Linked DNA regions of Homo sapiens: region 2 is linked to region 1. Evidence: fine-mapped expression QTL. A gene starts in region 1. The other region holds a variant in brackets. All regions are shown on one strand. Distances are between the middles of the regions. Region 1 holds the start of KRT10-AS1 (KRT10 antisense RNA 1). Region 2 holds the start of KRT27 (keratin 27).

The links. PIP is the estimated chance that this variant, and not a neighbour inherited with it, causes the effect.
Region 2: its variant is fine-mapped to the expression of KRT10-AS1 in esophagus muscle (GTEx, PIP 0.95).

The regions. Positions count from the first base shown.
Region 1 is chr17:40,816,070-40,821,452 of GRCh38, forward strand. It overlaps KRT10-AS1 (KRT10 antisense RNA 1), which reads left to right and starts at 3,076. Exons shown (of 3, transcript NR_160888.1): 1 at 3,076-3,139. KRT10 (keratin 10) reads right to left here. Exons shown (of 8, transcript NM_000421.5): 2 at 4,966-5,048; 3 at 4,442-4,598; 4 at 4,193-4,354; 5 at 3,980-4,105; 6 at 3,448-3,665; 7 at 2,718-3,092; 8 at 2,048-2,413. The coding sequence ends at 2,407. RefSeq lists an enhancer at 3,586-4,785.
Region 2 is chr17:40,780,023-40,785,405 of GRCh38, forward strand. It overlaps KRT27 (keratin 27), which reads right to left and starts at 2,528. Exons shown (of 8, transcript NM_181537.4): 1 at 2,028-2,528; 2 at 1,166-1,248; 3 at 278-434. The coding sequence starts at 2,471. The variant T/C (reference allele first, on the strand shown) is at 3,265.

The DNA.
Region 1 (5,383 bases):
AACATCTTTGGGGAAACAGGATTTTATCGTGTAATATTTTTTGACATGGGTGCCGAATTGGCTCTGCCAATCTAATTAGGCACTACCCTGCTTAAATAGCAGGATTCTGTAATGACTTTAGAATCTGTAAGAATGCATACAGAATTTTTTGATTAATAGGTACATGCAAATTTATTTGGTAAAAATAGTGCCCTGTGCTATTTAATAATTTTTAAAAATAATTCTGTAATTTTTTTTACTATAAATACCAATGTCCTTATTAAAGACAAGTGGCTTATTTAGACAGATTATCTTTATTAAACCATAGTGTTGGGCACTGCGGCATGTGCCTATAATCCCAGCTACTCAGAGACTGAGGTGGGAGGATTGCTTGAGCCCAGTTCAAGACTAGCATGGGCAACACAGTGAGACTTTGTCTCATTAAAAAAAAAAAAAAAAAAGCAAAAACAAACCATAGTTATCCAAGTCCAATCAAGAAAGCAGCTGTTTATCTGAGATAAAGTATTTACTTTATCAGAGAGAATATAAATAATTGTTTAAGGAGGTATTGCAAGATTGAAATGGTAAGAAGACAGGACCACGATGTATGCAGACTTTTCAGGAATGAAAGTTTGGGTCACCATCCAACCACATAGAGGACTCTGACTGCTAAGATTGTGGCCTGGGGGAGGAGGGCAGAATGGGTAGAAGAGACAAACTTAACAGCAAGCACTGCTATCTCATAGTAACATATGTGTACTTGCCTCGTATCAGTGGTATTGAATATAAAAAATCTATTTCTTCAGAATAAGGTGAATGGTAACCTCAGATTATAAGTACAATAGGTCCCGGGGATTTGGTTAACCTTATAATACATATTTTAAAAGATGGTGTTTCTGAACAGCAGGCAGTATAGCACTATTTACACAGTAGGAGTTCAGAGTCCTTATACAGCGACGTAAGGACTTCACAGTGTTTCAGGGCTCTACGCAGTGAGGCGTGTTGGGACTTCAATAGTGGATCTGAGAAGACTGGCTCCCAAGGTTAGCTGGTACAAATATCCAGAGGCATGTGAGCATTTAGACATTTAGGCATTTAGAGGCACAGGAACGAAAATGGAGAGCCTCTGGGCTGTGCTAATATTTGGTGCTAAGCAGGTTATGAAGCCTTGACTATAGGGAAATCCATCCCATTGAAACAAGGCTCCTGTCATCAATTTGGGGTACAGAGGGTAGTGTCTACAGAGTGGAGTGCCAACAAATGGCATGGGGATCAGGGCTCAGATCTGGAGCTCAAATCAAGGATACTGAGGAAAGCTGCTACTTGGTGGACATGAGTAATCCAAGAACTCATCAGAGGACACAAGGTAGTCTAAGGGACACGCCAGCTTATTCCCTTCATAGGATCCCCAGTAGAGTACTAAGTAATGTTGGTTGGGTTCTTATTGGCTGAGGGATGTGACTGGGCTATGAAAGTACAAGGTCTTTAGTCCTGATCACTGGGCACAGTTGGGGAAGGCAGAGACCTAGTGGTGTCCTTTTGGTTACACTGGCATCACTACTTCCTGACAGCGTTTCTCACGTTCATCTGATGGACATCAAATAATTTTGTTGGGGGTGATATGATTTTACTTGGGTGGTGTCAGAAGATATGTCAAGCTATATAACAATTGGGAAGAAGTAATATAGTAACTGGAAGAAAGTAAGAAAAGGCAAAGGTGAGAAGTCAGGTAATTAGAAAATATAAAATTTCCAATTATTATTATTTTGGGGGTTTTATTTGAGATATTCCAGAATTTCCAGGATTGAAATAATTTAAAGCCAGAGAGCTGGGAGCCTTCCACATATTGTGTATCTTAAAGAGTAATATTGGGGATTTACAGACTTTACTCAGTGAATTTACTGACGGTGGTCTGAACATACATGATTAAAAAACTTAGAAAAGGCATGACAATAGTTCTGTCTTCCGAATTTCTGGATACATCAACCTTCAACTGCTATGGGTTACTAATCTTTAATTTTAAAGAGTATTATGTACTTAAGTAAAGATAAATTCTGACAAATTGGGATAGTTTGCATCAGTAAGAAAGTTTATTGAAATTCATTAGTAAATGAGAACAGAAAGTTGTTTTTCTTTCCATTAAAGAACACTTTCTGGTAAAGTGAAAAGAAGAAATACAGAAACCACAAAACACCTTGTAGACACCTTATTTTCAAGGTCTATTTCCATAGACCATCAAGACAGAAGTGTTTTCTTGGAGACTTTGTTTTCCATGCATCTGTAAATAATGGTCTGTGTGAAGGGAGACTCTTTCCTCTTGATGCAGTTTAATAGTAGTGTTTCTTGGTTTCTGATTCAACCATAGATGAAAGAACTCTACCGTCGGGCGCCACCTCTTCAATAATTGTCTTGATTACTCTGGTTTTGTTAGTATCTGTGTGAATGATGGAAAAAAAATTTTAAACAGTCTGTAGGGATCCTTAGTAATTAACAAGCAAATATTGTAAAAAGAAGGAAATTTCAACTTTACATTGTTAAGCCCAAAAAAATGCTTAAGGTATGACATTTTGATCATGCCATTTTTCACGGCTGGTGTTAAGAGTAGTTTGTGAACAAATGCAAACGGAACCGTCTCTAAGATTTTTAATTTTTTAAAACAACTCTAGAGCTTAAAGCGCAAAAAAACCATCACAGGAAGTTAAAACTAATTCTGATTACCCCAGCTAGTTTCTGCTGACCTTGGTCCCTTAGATGAAGACTCGCCCACGGACCCGGAAGAGGAGGACTTGTGGCCTCCGCTGGAGCTGCCGCCGCCGTATCCGCCGCCGGAGCTGCTGCCGCCGCCGGAGCTGCCGCCCCCGTAGCCGCCGCCGCCGCCGCCGGAACTGCCACCACCGTAGCCGCCGCTGGAACTGCCGCCGTGGCCGCCGCTGGAGCTTCCGCCCCCGTAGCCGCCGCCGGAGCTTCCGCCGCCGGAGCTTCCGCCTCCGTAGCCGCCGCCGGAACTGCCGCCGTGGCCGCCGCCGTGGCCGCCGCCGGAGCTTCCGCCGCCGGAGCTTCCGCCGCCGTAGCCGCCGCCGAAACTTCCGCCGCCGCGTCCGCCGCCTCCGGAACTAAACGGGGTGAGGTCACATTCGGTTATCTCTAACGTTGGAAAACGGTGGGTAGCTTTCCAGTTGCCGTTAATTTAGAAAATAAGCAAAACGTGTTGAAAAAATAAAACCCTGCCAGGTATATATTTTAAAACCCATCCTTTGAAAACAATGTTAAGTTCACAGAACTCTTAAGAATCATTTTGGGCCAAATTCATGAGAAAGTGAGATTGCGGTTGCGTACTCCTTTTTCTGTACTCTACCCTCTCTCCTCCCTTCCTCTCATTCTCTGGCATCTTCTTGGGGTTTAGATAAGCCTTGCTATCTGGAATATTGAATAAAAGAAACTGGGATAACTTTTCATTTTAAAATTTACCTTCCCTCTCCTTCTAGCAGGCTGCGGTAGGTTTGAATTTCATTCTCCAGTCGGATCTTAATATCCAGGAGTTGTTGGTATTCAGTATTCTGGCACTCGGTTTCAGCTCGAATCTGTTGCAACTGTTCTTCCAGAGCGGATATCTGGGCCTGAATCTGTGAGAGCTGCACACAGTAGCGACCTTCTGTTTCTGCCAAGGAGGCTTCCAGGGATTGTTTCTGAAACGGATTTTTTTGTGGCTTAGTGACTTCCTTGTTCAGTTGAGTATGGTGACGCTTATTTGATTATTTAGTAAGGCATTATATAGAAGAATAAGAAAATGAACAGAATTTGTTGTATGTTTAATGGCACCATTTCAGTTTCAGCACTTTTAGATCAACACTAGTAGTACTTTTCCTCCATTAACATGAGCTTCACTTTGTTTTCTCTTTCTTACCTCCAACTCTGCATTTTTTTGTTGCATTGCATATTCTTAGGTGAGCATGAAACTTTGTATGATAAAGTTGAAGTCATTTCATGAGAGTTAACATACCAAGGCCAGTTGGGACTGTAGTTCTATCTCCAGAGCTTGTACATTACGTCTCAATTCAGTAATCTCAGATTTATAGCTGGATATCTGTTCAATGTTATTATCAATTTCTGTAGTCAGTTCCTTGCTCTAGAGTATTAAAAACAAGGAAAAGGGTGAGGAAATTCTGAAATGATAAAACCTCCATGAGTTTCACTATAAGGAAGATTACTTTACCTTTTCATTGAACCAGGCTTCAGCATCTTTGCGGTTTTGTTCAGCAAGTTGTTCATATTGGCTTCTCATGTTATTCAGAAGTTGAGTCAGATCAACACCCGGGGCAGCATTCATTTCCACATTCACATCACCAGTGGACACATTTCGAAGGTCTTTCATTTCCTGTTTGAGGAACAGAAAGATTTATTGGCTACACGAGGACCATAATGAACTCTCTTTTGGCTGGGAAAAGTATAACTTTTGTGTCACCTCCTCGTGGTTCTTCTTCAGATAGGCCAGCTCTTCAGTCAGGCTCTCAATTTGCATCTCCAGGTCAGCCTTGGTCAGGGTCAGCTCATCCAGCACCCTACGCAGGCCGTTGATGTCAGCCTCCACGCTCTGGCGCAGAGCTACCTCATTCTCATACCTGAAACAAGCATGATATCAATACTGGTTATAACTTATATAGGGGAGATGTATCTGGGCAGAGACTATTTAAAAAGCAGCTACATAGTTGATCTCATGTAATGGCAATATTTGTCATGTACAGTTCTCTTAGAAGTAATAGTGGTTTAATGGAAAAAACCTTAGCAGTTACTTTAAAATGCATTTTCTTCCTTTAATATTGCCAAAAAGGTAACACTGACATGGAAAATTTCTCAGATAACTCCAATACTATTTAACTTTGGGTGAATTCAGAAAAATGTAAATGTTATTGAGGGCATCCCAAGTCATTGTTAAAAACCACTGATGTATTCGTTGTGATAGTATTATACAACGATCACTTAACTTACTTCAGCCTGAAGTCATCAGCTGCCAGCCTGGCATTGTCGATCTGAAGCAGGATGTTGGCATTATCAGTTGTTAGGTTGAGAATCTGGAGGGAGAGGCACAGTTATTTGAGAAGAGGTCAGATGCAGATATGGCTTTTGTAGTGACATAGATGCACTCTGCACTTTTATGTTGTTCTCTTACAAAATCTTGGGAAAATTTTTTATTTTAAATATGAAATATTGCAGGCTTACCCATATACTTAACTTTGAATTATTTGTTCTCTTGGAATTTCTCCAGTCTTGTATTTCTGTACACGAATTATTCCTTTCTGAAAACTAACTGGAATTATATAGATGTATTCCTGTAAGTGTGCCCTCCTCTTTTAGACTATGTGATTTCCATGTATTTCAGCCATGCTTTGGCTGACTCACACCTGCA
Region 2 (5,383 bases), 36 kb before region 1:
TCCTACAGTGTTGGGATTATAGGCATGAGCCACCGCTTCTGGCCTGAATATTTTTAAAGGAGTCAGATGGACAAGATCTATAGGGTTAGAAACTTTTTGGGAGGTTTGTTTCTTTTGAGAAGAATGAATAGAAGCGTCTCAAACAATCTAAGCCTTATGGAGAAACTGACAGGTTCCTTCTTGAATGTTAATTTAAGACATTATATTTATCATCTGAAATTAGTTTTAAAATTTGGTAGGGAGGCGATTGTGAGAGCCAGCCGGGTGGAGCTTCTACCTCCTCATGATTCTTCTTGAGGTAAGCGAGCTCCTCACTGAGAGTTTCCAGCTGGATCTCCAGGTCCGTTCTGCACAAGGTCAGCTCATCCAGGACTCTTCGCAAACCATTGATGTCCGCCTCCACGCTCTGGTGAAGCGCTAGCTCGTTTTCAAACCTTAGAAAAGTATTTGGAAGTTTCATCATTAGTCATTAGACATGGCACATCACTTTTTAGATCATCATACAACTCAGACTAAGCTTTGAGGTAAAACTACTAAGATAATACTTAAAACTTCAGGCCGGGCGCGGTGGCTCACGCCTGTAATCCCAGCACTTTGGGAGGCAGAGGCGGGCGGATCACGAGGTCAGGAGATCGAGATCACGGTGAAACCCCGTCTCTATTAAAAAATACAAAAAATTAGCCGGGCGCAGTGGTGGGCGCCTGTAGTCCCAGCTACTCGGGAGGCTGAGGCGGGAGAATGGCGTGAACCTAGGAGGCGGAGCTTGCAGTGAGCCGAGATTGCGCCACTGCACTCCAGCCTGGGCGACAGAGCGAGACTCCGTCTCCAAAAAATAAATAAATAAATAAATAAATTAATTAATTAAAAAAACACATTTCAGTTAGGTCATCTATCATGCAATAAATACATTTCATTGAAGCAAGAGAATGGGAATAGCCAAAATTCTTTCTCATATGACTTTGACACTCGTTTTTGTTAGTCCCGAAATTTCCCAAGTAAAATTTGTTGCTCAGCTAGTTACTCATTCTAACAGGCATTTTGTTTAAAACAAATACATGAATAAACAAGAACAAAGGCTTGAGACAACGTCAAATAACTTAGAAGAATAAAGGAGAAAAAATGCTTAGACAACTTTTTTTTCCCATTTATCTTCAGCTCTACTTACTTTAGTCTGAAGTCATCAGCTGTTAGTCTTGCATTATCATTTTGCAGGACAACATGGGCATTACTGGTAGTTGCAGAAATTATCTGACAAATGAAAAGTTAGTTAAGATTGAGGAAATATTTAAGATGCATTTCAAAGTTCCTTGAAATAAAATTACCCATGAAATTATAGTAATATTTCTGGCATCTGTCTCTAATAATCAGACCATTCTTTTGAAGATGGGTAATTTAAGTATGGTCTCTCTCTCTGTCTTTTATTTTGAGACCGAGTCTCGCTCTGTTGCCCAGGCTGGAGTGCAGTGGCACGATCTTGGCTCACTGCAACCTCCACCTCCCAGATTCAAGTGATTCTCCTGCCTCAGCCTCCCAAGTAGCTGGGATTACAGGCATGTGCCACCACGCTCGGCTAACTTTTGTAGTTTTAGTAGAAACAGGGTTTCACCATGTTGGCCAGGCTGGTCTTGAACCCCTAATCTCAAGTGATCCACCTGCCTTGGCCTCCCAAAGTGCTGGGATTACAGGCTGAACCACTGTGCCTGGCTGGGTATGGTCTCTTGTATTTCCCACCCCAAGCATTAAAAAAAGCTCTTTCTATGGGAAAGCCTATAAATATATAACTGGAGACACTGGACAGCTTTTGATATTTTAATATTACCAAAAGCATATACCTAATACTACATGATGGACGTGCCATGTTCAAATATTAGAATTTATTAGAAATTATTTTTAATATTGAAAATGAACTCCTAAAATTTAGAAGCTGAGGGCAAAGCCCTGTTATTGTGATAGCTTATACATTTGTGCATCTGTGAGTGGCTAAACACTCTCAGGAGTGCTAACACTCACGCCATGGCGTTTCTTACCTGGTTCTTAAGTTCGTCAATAATTGGGAAATATCTGCTGTAATCATGATCAAGGCCACGGCAAGAACCAGGTCCAAATTTCTCATACCACCCCTTGATCTTCTGCTCCAAGTCAGCGTTGGCCTCCTCTAGGGCTCGAACATTCTCCAGGTAGGAGGCCAAGCGGTCGTTGAGGTTCTGCATGGTCACCTTCTCATTGCCAGAGAGGAGGCCGTGCTCATTCCCTGTGAAGGCAGCACAGGAAGCACTTCCCCCGCCCAGACCTCCGCCATAGCCTCCTGCAGATGAGCTGCCCCCAAAAGCACAAGAGAAGCCACTTCCAATGCCTGGCACACCGCATGTGTTTCCAGCCCCAAAGCCTGCTCCCCCACTAGAGAGCCTCACAGAGCCAGTGCCCCCGCAAGAGCCAAGTCTCCTGGAGGTAGAAGAAAAGCGCACAGACATGGTGTCCGGAGGCTGGAGCCTTTGTTTCTGCGGTGATGCTCTGATGGTGAACGGCCTACTCAAACAGCTTGGTTTGCCTTTATATACACATTATTAGGGTGTTTCTTGATGAGCTTTGCTCATAGCCAAATGATGTTTGCCAGCTCATTGTGAATTATCCATAATGGGGTGATTTTTTTTTTTTTTTAATGAATGGCTTTACCATACTGTGTCCATTTCTGTAGGTGGATAGTTATTGTGGGGTTATTTGTTATCTCTGGAGTTGGACAGGGTGGAGTATTATCAGGATTATTATAGTGATGCATTTCAAATTTAGTATGAGTAACTCTTCCTGTCTTCCAGGCTTCAGGAATGCATAATACCTATAAGAATAAAAAAGTATGATAGACAGATTTCTCTTTCCCTTGCTCAAATCAGCATTGCATTTTCTTCAGCAATGAAGTATCATAGTATCAGAAGAAGGAGGGGAGGTCCTAAAGGAAAACTGAGGCATTAAAGGGAATCTTCTTTGGAGACAGAAAGTGTTCCTTTGATCCTTATCCTTCCTGAATTACCATTTCATCTGTACTGGTTTTCTGTCTAAGTTCCATTGCTAACCAGGTTAAGTAAAGGAATTGGTCACCTCCTCGGGCCTCAGTTTCCACATCTGTAAAGTGAAGGGTCTAGACTGTGGTCTCTATATTCACTTTCTGTCTGTAGATTGCTCATATTTCTGCATTCCTTCTATTGGCTGTCCATTTCCATAGCACTTTTCTGCATTGCTTCTTGTACTTTTCACCTCTTATTTCTGAAT[T/C]GTGGTCCCACTATTTTACTGAAATTAACCTCTCAGACATCACTGCACATCTCTAATCATCATTTCTTTTATTTTTTCCCCTATACCCTCTTGGTTACATTCAATACTGACAACCTCAGTCTGATGAGTCTGATCGAGTTTCAGACAGTTGCTTTCTAAGAAATTTTCTACATCTCATGTTGCTCCCCTTTTCTCTTCCACTTATAGCTCCTGTGCCCTACCTTTGTCATTTCTTATAGTTTTGTGCTTGGTATTTACGACTCTCTCTCTTTTTTTTTTTTTTTTGACAGGGTCTCGTTTTGTCACCCAGGCCAGAGTGCAGTGACATGATCACAGCTCACTGCAGCCTCAACCTCCCAGGCTCAAGTGATCCTCCCACCTCAGCCTACCAAATATCTGGGACTACAGGCACACGCCACTATGCCTGGCTAATCTGTGTATTTTTTTGTAGAGTTGGGGTTTGCCATGTTGTCCAGGCTGGTCTTGAATGCCTGGGCTCGACAGATCCTCCCACCTTGGCCTCCCAAAGTGCTGGGATTATAGGCAGGAGCCACCTCACTGTCTTAATGTAAATTTTCCCGCACTGACTTGTCCGTTCTGTTTTACTACTTCCCTCTTTCCCATCTCTTTGCCTTTGTTCATGTTATTCTTTCCACCTGGTTTTCTTCTTCAGACTAAAAATTATAACAAATCATTTGAGATCTTGCATTTGCCAAGAATGATTGACATCACTTTCAATTACCTAGATTGAAAATGAAGTTGGCAAAAATATAAATTTTCATGACTTAATAAATGAGCTTGCGGAAAAAAAGCCAGAAAGATTTGTCAATCAATTTAATACATTATTAAAGTATTATGGTTTATTGTTTTACATAAAATTAGGACACCAAAACATTATTTCTTTGCTGTTTGTAGTTTATGCTGTTATATATGTGTACCCGTTACCTCATTACATGTTATAAATAATAAGACTTTTTAGAAGAAAAAGATTTATATTTTACTATTTCTTTTTTTTTTTTTTTGAGATGGAGTCTCGCTCTGTCGCCCAGGCTGGAGTGCAGTGGTGCCATCTCGGCTCACTGCAACCTCTGCCTCCCGAGTTCAAGTGATTCTCCTGCCTCAGCCTCCCAAGTAGGTGGGATTACAGGTGCCTGCCACCATGCCCGGCTAATTTTTGTATTTTTAGTAAAGACGGGGTTTCACCATGTTGGCCAGGCTGGTCTCAAACTCCTGACCTCAGACCACCCACCTTGGTCTCCCAAAGTGTTGGGATTATAGACTTGAGCCACCGCGCTGGACCTATTTTAATATTTCTAACTGAACTTTTTTTCTGACTTTTCAACAGGAGACCTCACATTTTCATTTTGCACTGGGCCTTGTAAATTATGTAGCCAGCCCGAATTGTTGGGTCTCTCTGAGGAAGCTGAAGAATCTCAGAGAAAATACCTCCAGATAGAATTGTTTGAGTGTTCTCCACAAAAAGGGAGCTCACTGTACAACCACTCTGGAAGGAAACACAGACACTTCACACAAAGCTTTCAAATGTTTAAGGTCTTACTCAAAACGAACATAATTTAAAATATCACGATACATTGAAAAACACTCCAACAAGAAAGACAGAGACTCAAACAAACAAAAAATAGCACTCAGGGGAAACAGAGATAATGAAGAACGTTGAAGAAAACTTTAAAAAAGAAACTACCTATAATTATTACTTTCAGAAGTAACAAAAATACTGTATATTTAAAACATGGATAGAACATCATTAAAATTGAACAGGAAGCACATAAAAGACCTCTTAGAATTAAAAACTAAGTCCCAAAAGAAAACTTCAATAGATGAATTGGAAAATAAATTTAAAAAAAAACTCCCCAAAATTAGAACAAAAAGATGAAAAGATAAATATGTGAGCCTTGAAAGAGCCAGTCTCTCTCTCTCTCTGTTTTTTTTTTTGAGACTGAGTCTTGCTCTGTCACCCAGGCTCGAGTGCACTGGCGCGATCTTGGCTCACTGCAACCTCCACCTCCCAGGTTCAGGTAATTCTCCTGCCTCAGCCTCCCAAGTAGCTGGGATTACAAGCACATGCCACCATGCCTGGCTAATTTTTGTATTTTTAGCA